2 separate regions of the Homo sapiens genome follow, and region 1 is linked to region 2. Evidence: fine-mapped expression QTL. A gene starts in region 2. The other region holds a variant in brackets. All regions are shown on one strand. Distances are between the middles of the regions.

The links. PIP is the estimated chance that this variant, and not a neighbour inherited with it, causes the effect.
Region 1: its variant is the best candidate, but not a certain one, in a credible set for the expression of FRMD1 in tibial nerve (GTEx, PIP 0.89).

Annotation. Positions count from the first base shown.
Region 1 is chr6:168,099,090-168,104,452 of GRCh38, reverse strand. LOC107986548 (a long non-coding RNA gene) reads right to left here and starts at 5,149. Exons shown (of 3, transcript XR_001743903.2): 1 at 4,623-5,149; 2 at 4,236-4,277; 3 at 3,529-3,994. RefSeq lists an enhancer at 4,721-5,222. The variant C/G (reference allele first, on the strand shown) is at 2,878.
Region 2 is chr6:168,076,576-168,081,938 of GRCh38, reverse strand. It overlaps FRMD1 (FERM domain containing 1), which reads left to right and starts at 2,727. Exons shown (of 11, transcript NM_024919.6): 1 at 2,727-3,057. The coding sequence starts at 2,845. RefSeq lists enhancers at 1-86, 3,015-3,736.

The DNA of each region.
Region 1 (5,363 bases), 23 kb before region 2:
ACTCACATGGTGAGGCATGGCAGCCAAGGCCAGTGTCGGGAACATGGATTTCAGGCGGGTGTGGTCCAAAGACAAAGCTGACGTTCAGAGAAGGGCAATGGGAGCCTTTTAAAGCAACAAAATACAACACACCTGGGGCCAAATTTTACTGCAGGAGCGCTCCCCGAGGAGAAACTGACACAGGTGCTTTGGGGCGAGTTACTCAAGAAGCTGCTAGAGACCAGATGACTGACAGTGAGAGGCTGCACCTCTCCTGGCCGCAGCAGGTATGAAGAGCCAGGCTGCTGGCTCCTGGTCCTAAAGCTCTGCTCCGTTTGCAGCCAGAAATCAAACACAGGGAAACCACCTTGTTTCCTAGAATTAAAACATTTACTTTTCAGCAAGGTTGTTTTCATTTTTTTTTTGTTAATCCTTATTATACAAATAACTATTTGTTTTTAAAAATCAACAAGCAAAAAAAAAAAAAAACAAAAACAAAAAAAACCTGGACATCTTACTCCTTTTGATGTATTTTAATATATTTCCCTCCAGACACTTTTCTCTGTAAATATTAAAACATGGTTTTTTCAAATTGTCTTCCTTGTCTTCTCCATTAAAATTTGAAGTGATATCCTTGTCCTCCTCCTCTTCCTCTTCCCCAGGCATAAAATTTTTTATCTTTTTCTAGGGAGAAAGAAGCATTAAACTCCCAATCCGAACAGTCAAGAGCCATTTGCTGTTTTATTATACAAATGTCACATAAAACGTCCCCTCACGCCAGGGAACCACGTCTCCAGGTGGGTGGCATCACGGCAGCACCAGCAGCTGTCATTCTAGCACCTTCTGGACACATGAGGATTGACGAGTTGTGTGTCCTGTAAGTTAGACCAGGCAGGGCCATTGCTGCCGAGTCGTTGTGACACTGAAGAGGCTCCTGAGTTAAATCCCAATTCGCTCTCTCCATCAAGTCGCTGCTGCCATGTGTGATAACTCTGCGTACACTGACACACTTATGTACTGGACATCAGCAATACCTGTTATTTCAACACCCTTTTCACAAAGTAACCTCGTAATACTCACATGCACGTCATTTTGTGGCAATGCAGAGAATAAAGAGGTCTACAAGGGAAAGAGGCAACGCTGAGATGTGATTCAAAGATGAGATCACAGCCAGCTCCAAACAGCAGGCAGGCTGTCATCCGGGGCTATGTGGAGGACCAAGTCCATCTCCACAGAGCACAGGACCAGACGCAATGACTGAGCAAGGGCCCCATGGAGATCAGAGTGGACCAAGAGTGGGCTCACTGCCTGGGTGAAAGGTGTGACGAAGAGGCTGCTTCCAGACTACCCGGGCAGGTGAATACAGAAGTCGTCACCTGTCTGCTACCAGCTTATAAATAAACAAAAAGCAAAAATCACCCAGGGCAGATACACAACACCCAGGCACCACAACATCAAGCCCGTCTTAGTTTCTGGCTCCTGCTGGTCTGTGACCTCTTGATTCAACCCTCGAGCTCTTTGCCACCCAGTTGTCCTTATTGTGCAAGTGTGTGGATGGCATGAACCACCTTCATTTAAATGGTGCATTGCTCTGTTCCTGCTGGAGTGCAGAAGGAAGAGGAGGAGAAGGGAATTAAATCCACGTAGGAGCTACTTCCCCTAAGGCAAGGTGCCAGGTGCGCTGACATGACTGAATGGAGTGGGAGGACTCTACCTGAGCTGCTGTATTTGATCTGGGCCCTGATACATGAATTATTCATTCCGCCAAGAACTCTCCAGTGCCAGCAGCTCTTGGAGGTGCTTGGGTTTCAGCAGTAAACAAAACAGATAAAAAATATCTGCCCTGCTGGCACTTAAATTCTAACTGGGGGAGGCTGTCAAAATGAATGGCTAAATAGTATTATATGCTGGAAGATCAGCACTGAAGGAAAACTGGGAACATATGAGGCCTGGGGCAGGGGGAGGAAGGGGAAGGAGAAATCCAAACCAGGACGGTAGAGAAACGCCCCGAGCCCTGATGCTGGGCGGCCTGGAACCTGGTTCCCCAGAGTCTCAGAACACAGCCAAGGCTGGGTTCTGGGAGCTCAGCCTCAGGGGTCAGGAATGACGCCCTCTCTCCCTCTCTTTGCTCTCTCTCAGCCCCCAGCGTGCCTGGGGCCTCTGCACTTGCTGGTCCTCAATTTGGGACCCCCGACTTCCCCCTAAATATCCAAGAGGCCTCCTCCCTCGTTCCTAAAGGTGTCTGCCCAAATGTCACCCTCAGACGGGGCAAATCGCCCTGGGCCAGTGAAGCTTCAACTGCCCTCCTGGGCGGTGGTCTGGTTTTGCACGGTGATAACATCCATCCCTTCCTAGAGCTCCACCGCCGCGTCGTCTTCCCGCTCTCGGGGCTGGAACTGTCCCATCACCCATGCAAACCCCAGGACCATCCCCTCCCCGCCACTGTGCCCCAGGGCAGGTCTCCCCTCCGCGCTCCGCACTGCCCGCCCCGGGTCCACCGCATCCACCGACAACGCAGGCAGCGATGGCTTCAAATGCATGCCGCCGTTCCGAGTGTGCTGTCCAGGCCGTGAGGTCCGGGGAGAAACCCGGCAGCGGGGTCGCCAGCAGCCTGCAAGGCGCCGAACCCGGTGCGTCCGCGCAGGGAGCGGCCCGTCTGGGGTGGGTGGCGCGATCGCCTCTGCAAGGCTGGGATGCTGCAGCCCTGGGCCGGGCAATCGGGGGACGTGTGACCCGGGGATGGAGCGACCCTCCGGACTGGGCGACCCCTGGGACAGGCAACTCTGGGGCCGTGTGACCTCCAGGACGGTTCGACCCCCGAGACCCTGCACGGCCCGCGCTCCTGCCGGGGAGGGTCGGCTGGGCGGGGAGGGGGCGGGCGGCGCCGGCCAATCCGGA[C/G]CCCGGGCCGCGTCACCCTCCGGGGTCACCGCTGCCTCCCCACGTGGTCCCACCCGGAGGGCACAAGAGCGGCGGCCGCTTCTACACCGCCGGCGGGACCACGGCCCGGAGCCTTGAGCCGGACGACGAGCCGGACCTCGGCCCCCGGAAGGTGAGCGCGTGGGTCTCCGCGGGCGGGGTGCGCCCTTCTCCAGCCGCCGCCACCAGATGAGGGGACCCCGGAGGCGGGGAGTGGCGCTAACTGTCGAGTTTCAGGGGTTGCACCCCAGGGCCCAGAGCGCAGGGCCCAGGCGGCTTCCGCTGTCGTCCCCTCGGGGTTTCCAGGACTGAGGCGGGTCTAGGAGGACCCGCCGGCCCATGGGGGTCCCTGCCCCGGGCTAAGTGCACCCTGCCTGCCTTCTGGAAGGAGCCCTGGCCCTACCCCCCCGCCCCCACTTCCCCCTCACCTCCTCCCACCTCCTCCCTACCTCCCGCTATTTCCCCCATCTCTCCCCACCTCCCCTCCAGTCCAACACCCCCCCCTTCCCCTGTCCCCTCCCCTAGCCTCCTGTCTGCCCTCCCCGCGGCTCTGCGCTCAGAAGCAGATGCTGGCTAAGGGAATCGGAAGCTCTGCCTGCCTTTACGCCCTTCCCCACCCCACCCTCACCCTGGTGTGGGCTGGAATTTGGTTTTTGGAGCGTGTTTCTAGAGGGCTTTGGACCCTAAAAGGTGCCCACACAGGCCTGGAGGATCCTGGAGTCAGGCTCTGCTCCTGCCTTCTACAAACCAAGTTTTCTCCTCTCCCAGCGGCAGTCCTAGCTGTGGCTGCTTCCAGAGCCAAAAGGCTGGCACCCGAGATGAGGTACCGCCAGTGCTCGGAGCAGGAGGTGCAGACCCTGGCCAGGGTGCAGGTTTGAGTGATTTGTGTGCTGCAGGGGCAGGAACAGACATCAGGTCACAAAATGACATCTAAGCATTTAATTACCAAAGTGAAGACATCCTCACCTTTGTTCCATGAGGTCGTCCAAAGCTCCCCCTTTCTCCCGTCTTTGAAAGTAAGGCTGGCGTAGGAGGTGAGCGAACGTGGGAGCAGGACCTCCAGAAGGGTCTGGAAGGGTCCGGAAGGGTCTGGAAGAGCCTAGGTGGTGATGTTTCCTGAGTAGACTGAGCAGGGGTGGTGGGGAAGGGGCGCCGTCGCTGGGTGGCCCTAAATCTCGTCTCCCCCGACCCATGCCGCCTCTCCCCACCCATGCCTCTTCAGAACTTCAGCCCTCCTCTGTGGGACCTCCCCGCCCCAGCCCCACCTCCCCCACCCCCTGCCCCATTAAGTATTAAGGAAAAGACGACTGAAAACCAAAGTGGGCTGTGCCTTCACCTACCCTATGTGCTCCCGCGGGCCAGGGCAGGTGTAGTCTGTCTTTCTGCAGAAAGAGGCAGACAGAACGGGAGCTGGGGAGGAGCCGTCCCCAGCACCAGCCACTCCAGGTGGGGCGGGGAGTGCAGCCTGGTTGGCCGGGGGCACAGGGGGCTCTGTTAGTCGTCCCCCACTCAGCATCATTTGTGTCTCCTTTATCCCCCGTGGGCTTTAGAAGGTTTCTCTGGTGCCCAGGATTGCAGCACAAGAGGTCACCAGGCACCCCGGGCTTGGTCACACAATGGGGAGGCCTCTTGAGACTCAGGGTGCATTACAGGGCCCCTTCCAGTCTCTGGGCATGGCTAGAATGGCCTGGTGGGCTTGTATGAGCTCCACAGTTGGGAACACATACCCCGGAGGTGAGCAGGGGGTCCAGACCCATGGAGAAGTTTCCAGAGACAGCCGAGTGGTCATTGGGGTGCCAGTTATCCAGGATTCTGGCCTGGCGCCTGTCAGACCCCTTCAGATATGAACTTGAACTTGAACTCAGGAAACCTTAGGCCCCGAGAAGACTAAGGAAGTCAGGAACCTGAGGACCGCAGGGTGTTCTCTGCAGGATGCAGCAGGAAATGTCTCCCCGAAAGCCAGGCCAGGCGGGGCCGCCTGCCACGGAGATCCAGTTTAGCCAGGACGTATCGGCTCTGCATTGACTGTCTTTGGTGAAGTTCCTCCGCTGAGACCCCACAGCTCCTCCTAAGCACCTGGAGAGCGGCTGCATCTCATTTCTTCTGGAGAGGGGGATTCCCAGACTCAGCCTCACAGATCACTGCTTTCCCGGCGAGGAGGTCTGTTCGGCCCCTGCTAAGGGAGGGGCTTCGGCCTTGCAGGGGTTCAGTCACTTCCTGCAAGTACAGCGACTGCCTCGCATAGCTAAGGAGGCACTAGAGCTGGTCTGCTTATCCACGCTGTCACTCGGGGCTTCTAAGCTTTTAAAGTCGGTGTTGGGAGAGGTGGCAGGGCAAGGTTGTTTACAATGCAGATTTTGTCTGATGTTTCACAATTTTGTTTGTTGTTTTAGAAGCAATAGGGTCATTTTCTTGACATGTACAAGGTGTCTGTTTGGAAGGCTCAGTATTCTAAAAGTACAGTGGCT
Region 2 (5,363 bases):
TTAACAGCTTTATTGAGATATAGTTTGCATACTGTAAAATATATTCCTCTAAAGCGAAATGTTTCATAAACTTCAGAGCATTTAGGAACTGTGCAGCCATCACTGCCATCCGACCACCCCCAGAGGACACCTCGCCCCTCTGCAGTCCCTGCTGCCAGCTCCCTGGCCCCGAAGATGCTGCCTTTGCTGGATGTCTCGGAATGGAGCCCGGCCTTTTGCATCCAGCTTCTCCCTTGCAGTGGGATGTTTAGTCCTGTGCCTGTGTCAGTTCTGCCTTCCTTCTCACCACGGAACAGCATTCCCACATTGTTTTCCAAAACCTGTGCTTTGTGGACCTAGAGCTCCGAAGCTTGAGTTCTAGAATGTTCTCAGCAGGCCTCTATCTATCTCATGATAGAGGATGGAAACCAGCCGTCCAGAAGAAGAGAGAGTTGGGCCGAGGAGGACTCCAGGGCTCAGCCATGAGGAGATCTGGGCGGTGGTCTCCTCTTCCTCGCGGCCTCTGCCCGTCCACTGCCCGGCCCTGACATCACGAACGTGGCAGGCCAGCCTCTTCCATCACGAACAGGCCAGTCGAGAAGACAAGACATTCAGAGGTGGGGTCAGTGTTGGGGCCCGGTCACGCCTCTGCCTTCTCAGGGTGCAAAGTTGTCTTCTTGATGAGCTGAGGACAGAGGTTCTGGTGTCCCCTCAGTGCCCTGGCGGGAGGTACTCATGGCGACCACCCTTGCCTTGGAGCCTCAGCACGTTTTCAGGAAAAAGCCGCGCTCTCCCAGGAATACAACGGGGGCTTCCCAAGCCCAGCTCTCCCTGGCACTCAGATGGACGGCGGCCTTCACTGGAGGTCTGAACCTCAACGGTGTGGCCCTGAGACTCTGGGTGGGAAGGAAGGAGCTGGGGCCAGGGACGTCCTGCTTTGACAAGAATCCATTTATTGTGTTTATCAATACAAATGTGGAGTTTCCATTCCTTTTCCTTTTCTTCTCACTAATGATGTTTGGAGCTCATTGGCCCACGGTCACCTGTACACACCAGCGCCCACACACACCAGCGCCCACACACACCAGCACCCGCACACACCAGCGCCCACACACACCAGCGCCCGCACAAACCAGCGCCCGCACACACCAGCACCTGCACACACGTGGGGAACCATCGCTTTGATCATTAGTGCACCCAGCACAACTCCCCACCGTGTCCCCGGCTCTCCCCACCGAGGGGTCCTGGTGCCTGTTGTCCCCTCTGTGCTGTGTGTGCCGGTGGTGTTCTGCCACCCCCCAACCCTGGCCCCTGCCTGCCCTCTGCCACTGTCCTGCGCCCAGGCATCCTGAGAGGTGCAGCTGCTGCCGCCCTTCCTGATACGCCGGCACTGTGACTCCAGGCAGCGGCTGAGGGCACCCGGCACAGGGACGAGCTGCTCAGGCGCCAGTGGCACAGGGCCATGAGGATCCAGCCTCTGCTCTCTGGGGCTGTTTTTTTTTGTGGTTTTTTTGCCATTTTTAAAACTTTTTGTGCTCTCAGCTAAAGGGATCCCCACATCTTCCATAGTGAACAGCTCTACGTTTGCTGTGGAGAGAAAAGAGACCGCCACTGCTGTCTTGGGCACACATGTGTGGCCTCGAGGGTCTGGGAAGGGTCTGGATCTGAGCGGAGGGAGGGAGGGAGGGAGCCAGTGTCAGTCCAGGGTCCGGGGGAGGTGAGGCCTAAGCCTCCTAAATCTTCTCAACCCACCGGGCCGGGCCTTAGGGCGGCTGGAGTGCGAATTTCCTAAACCCACCGGGCCAGGCCTTAAGGCGGCTGGAGTGCGAATTTCCTAAGATGAACAACGGCCCGTCCGGAGGTCCAGACCCCTTACTAGAGGAAGGTCCCAGAGCATCCCAGACTCCATGGCAGGAAACTGATGGAGCTCACGGCTGAGGACAGAATTCCACAGCCCAGGCCCGTGGGAACTGCCTCTCCTGACCTGCAGCGCCCAAAGGTCTGGGTGGTCCCAGGGCCAGGCAGGATCCTGGGGTCCCTTCCCCACCTAACACTGTGCCAAAGAGCTCGAAGGCGTTGCTCATCTCTGCTGAGCGGCCTCAGGGGTTCCAGGCCCTGCGGGAGATGTCCCCACCCCTCGTGCTGATGCACCCGGCTGCTGTCCACGCAAGCCAGGACCCCCTTCCTGGCCTTCCAGCTGCTGCAGGCAGGAAGGGATTTGCTGGCCCTGGACAAGGAAGGAAGTGTCCTCAGTTTCCAGCCCCTAAAGGGAGCCAGGGTCCCTCCTGGCAGAACCTGTCCAGGAACGGCAGCTGTGCTGCTTCCTGAGGTCGATAACAGATGCCACAGGAGGTGTGTGGGGCAGGGTGCCCACCCAGGCTGCCTTCCTCCCGCCCTCCTCGTCCTGCCCTGCTGCTGCTCCATCTTCCCCAGCAGCCCTGGCTCTGGCATCTGTGCCCATGGGGTTTGCATAGCCCTCTCCACATTATAGAAGAAGGAGCAGGCACCCTGAGGAGATAGGGGTTGTCAGGTGGAGGAGTTGGGTCCTGTCTCCCCCAGCCTGGTTCTCACGGGGCCCACACCGAGGCTGGCTGCTGAGCTACCCTGCATGGGAGTGCTGCATGGCGGGTGCCCAGCCTGAGGTTGTTTATTTGCATTCCTGGCGCCCTCCACACACCCAGCTATTTGCAGCTCTGACCCTTGTCCTGGCTTGGCCATGCTGGATTCCCAGCCCAGGCTTCCCTCTCAATTCCCTTCCCAGTGAGAAGCTCGGCAAGGGCGGGTCCCGGAAAGCACAGCTGTGATCTGGGAGGTGCTGAGCACCCACCTGCGACCCATGGCGGGGGAGGGCCGAGTAACGACAGCATGGCGGTGCCCCCGAGAGGGAGGGGCATAGACCCCGCCCGGACAAACCCTGACACGTTCCCTCCTTCAGGGGCGCGATGTATGGAACCCAGTCCTGAGAGGCCTGCATGCAGTCAGCAGGAGCCGACCCTGGGAATGGACGCGATGGCCTCGGAACACAGGGATGTCCTCGTGCTGCTGCCCAGCCGGGAGCAACTGCGGCTGGCCGTGGGGGTGAGCAGGGCCCTGGGTGGCCGTGGGGGTAAACAGAGCTGTGGGGGTGAGCAGGGCTCCGGGTGGCCGTGGGGGTGAGCAGGGCCCTGGGTGGCCGTGGGGGTGAGCAGGGCCCTGGATGGCCTTGGGAGTAAACAGAGCCATGGGGGTGAGGAGGGCCCTGGGTGGCCATAGGGGTGAGCAGGGCTGTGGGGGTGAGCAGAGCCATGGGGGTGAGCAGGGCCCTGGGTGGCCGTGGGGGTGAGCAAGGCTGTGGGGGTGAGCAGGGCCGTGAGGGTGAGCAGAGCCGTGGGGGTGAGCAGGGCTGTGAGGGTGAGCAGAGCCGTGGGGGTGAGCAGGGCCGTGGGGGTGAGCAGGGGTATGGGGTGAGCAGAGCCTCAGGACACAGCCTGTGTATGGAAAGTCCCTGGACCGCCTCACTCTGCTTAGGCCAGGTGTCTGTGAGGTGTCAAGGGCCAGCCCTTTCACTGGGCCTGTGAAGGAAACATCCCTGATAGACGTTGCTGTGAGAAATAAGTTTATGGTTCAGCACATCCTTCCCGGGAGGGAGCGCTGAGGGAAGAGCGCCAGGAAGCCGGTTTCCAAGGAGCAGCTCCTGTCTTGTGTTCAGACGTCACCATCTCTATGCTTCTCTATTTCCTTTTCTTTTCCCTTTCCCCCATTTTGTCTACCTGTTTTAGTTGAGTTCATGGCGACAGGAGTTGAGATGGTACTTTCATTTTAATGATTAATGTGGATAATGAAAATGTGGCAATTAAAATGAGAGTGGTTTGTTGAAGAACGATGACTTTCTGCATAGCTAATGTATCATTGCTACCTGGAATGGAGTATGACTTGCTAGTAATATCCTGGTTCAAGTCCCCTGGGAATCTGGGAGTCTCTTGTCTGCTTCGGGATAGAGTTCTGTGTTTACGTAAACGCCCACATCTATGTTTGTGGCAAAATCTTCCCCAAGACTCTGTGTCCCCACCCAGCAACGAGAAGCTGGAGTTGAGCTAATGGGGGATGTCCTGTAGTTTCCTGGGGTCCCCAGCAGTGCCTCGGGCTGGGGGAGGGGTCATAAGAGGACCTGTTGTGGGGAAGATGCTGGGGCTTTGGCCCCCTACCCCATAAGAGCTGGAACTTTTAGGTTTCTTGCACGGAACTTCACGGTAAGATTTTAACTGAGGGATCATGCAGCTAGAACATAGTGAACCGCCTGTTCTGAACAGGTGAATCGTGCTCATCTGCTTTTGACGGAGCTCCCTGAAGTGCCTCTGCAACTCCTGTGGCCCCTGCTGGGCCTGGCAAGTTGGCAACCACAGAGCCACTTCCTATCGGGGTGTGCGCACATCTGTGTCTGCAGTTGGACAGGAACCCCTCACTGGGTTGTGCAGTCATCTATGTCTGCAGTTAGACAGGAACCCCCCCACAGGGTGTGTGCACATCTGTGTCTGCAGTTGGACAGGAACCCCTCACTGGGTTGTGCAGTCATCTATGTCTGCAGTTAGACAGGAACCCCCCCACAGGGTGTGTGCACATCTGTGTCTGCAGTTGGACAGGAACCCCTCATTGGGGTTTGCAGTCGTCTATGTCTGCAGTTAGACAAGAACCCCCCCCCATCGGAGTGTGTGCACATCTGTGTCTGCAGTTGGACAGAAACCCCCTATTGAGGTGTGCACACATCTGTGTCTGCAGTAGGAGAGGAACCCTCTATCAGATGTGCATGCATCTGTGTCTGCAGTAGGAGAGGAACCCTCTGTTGGTGTGTGCACACATCTCTGTCTGCAGTAGGACAGCAACCCTCTGTTGGGGTGTGCATGCATCTGAGTCTGCAGTAGGAGAGGAACCCTCTGTTGGGGTGTGCATGCATCTGTGTCTGCAGTTGGACAGGAACCCTCTGTTGGGGTGTGCACGCATCCGTATCTACAGTTGGACAGGAACCCTCTATTGGGGTGTATACTCGTGTGTATCTGTAGTTAGACAGGGAACGCTCTATTGGAGTGTGTGCACACCTGTGTCTGCAGTTAGACAGGAACCCTGTATTCAACCAAATATGTGTCAAGCCCAGTTATTCGAAAGGGATGGGCTGGGAAGACCCTCACTGAAGATCTGTGTTACCGTCATTGTGGGGCCTGCCCCTCACCAAGTTAAGCAGACAATAATCATATTAGTCTGTTCTCACGCTGCTAATAAAGACATACCCAAGACTTGGTAATTTATAAAGGAAAGAGGTTTAATTGACTCACAGTTCCACATGGCTGGGGAGGCCTCAGGAAACTTACAGTCATGGCAGAAGGCACCTCTTCACAGGGTGGCAGGAGAGA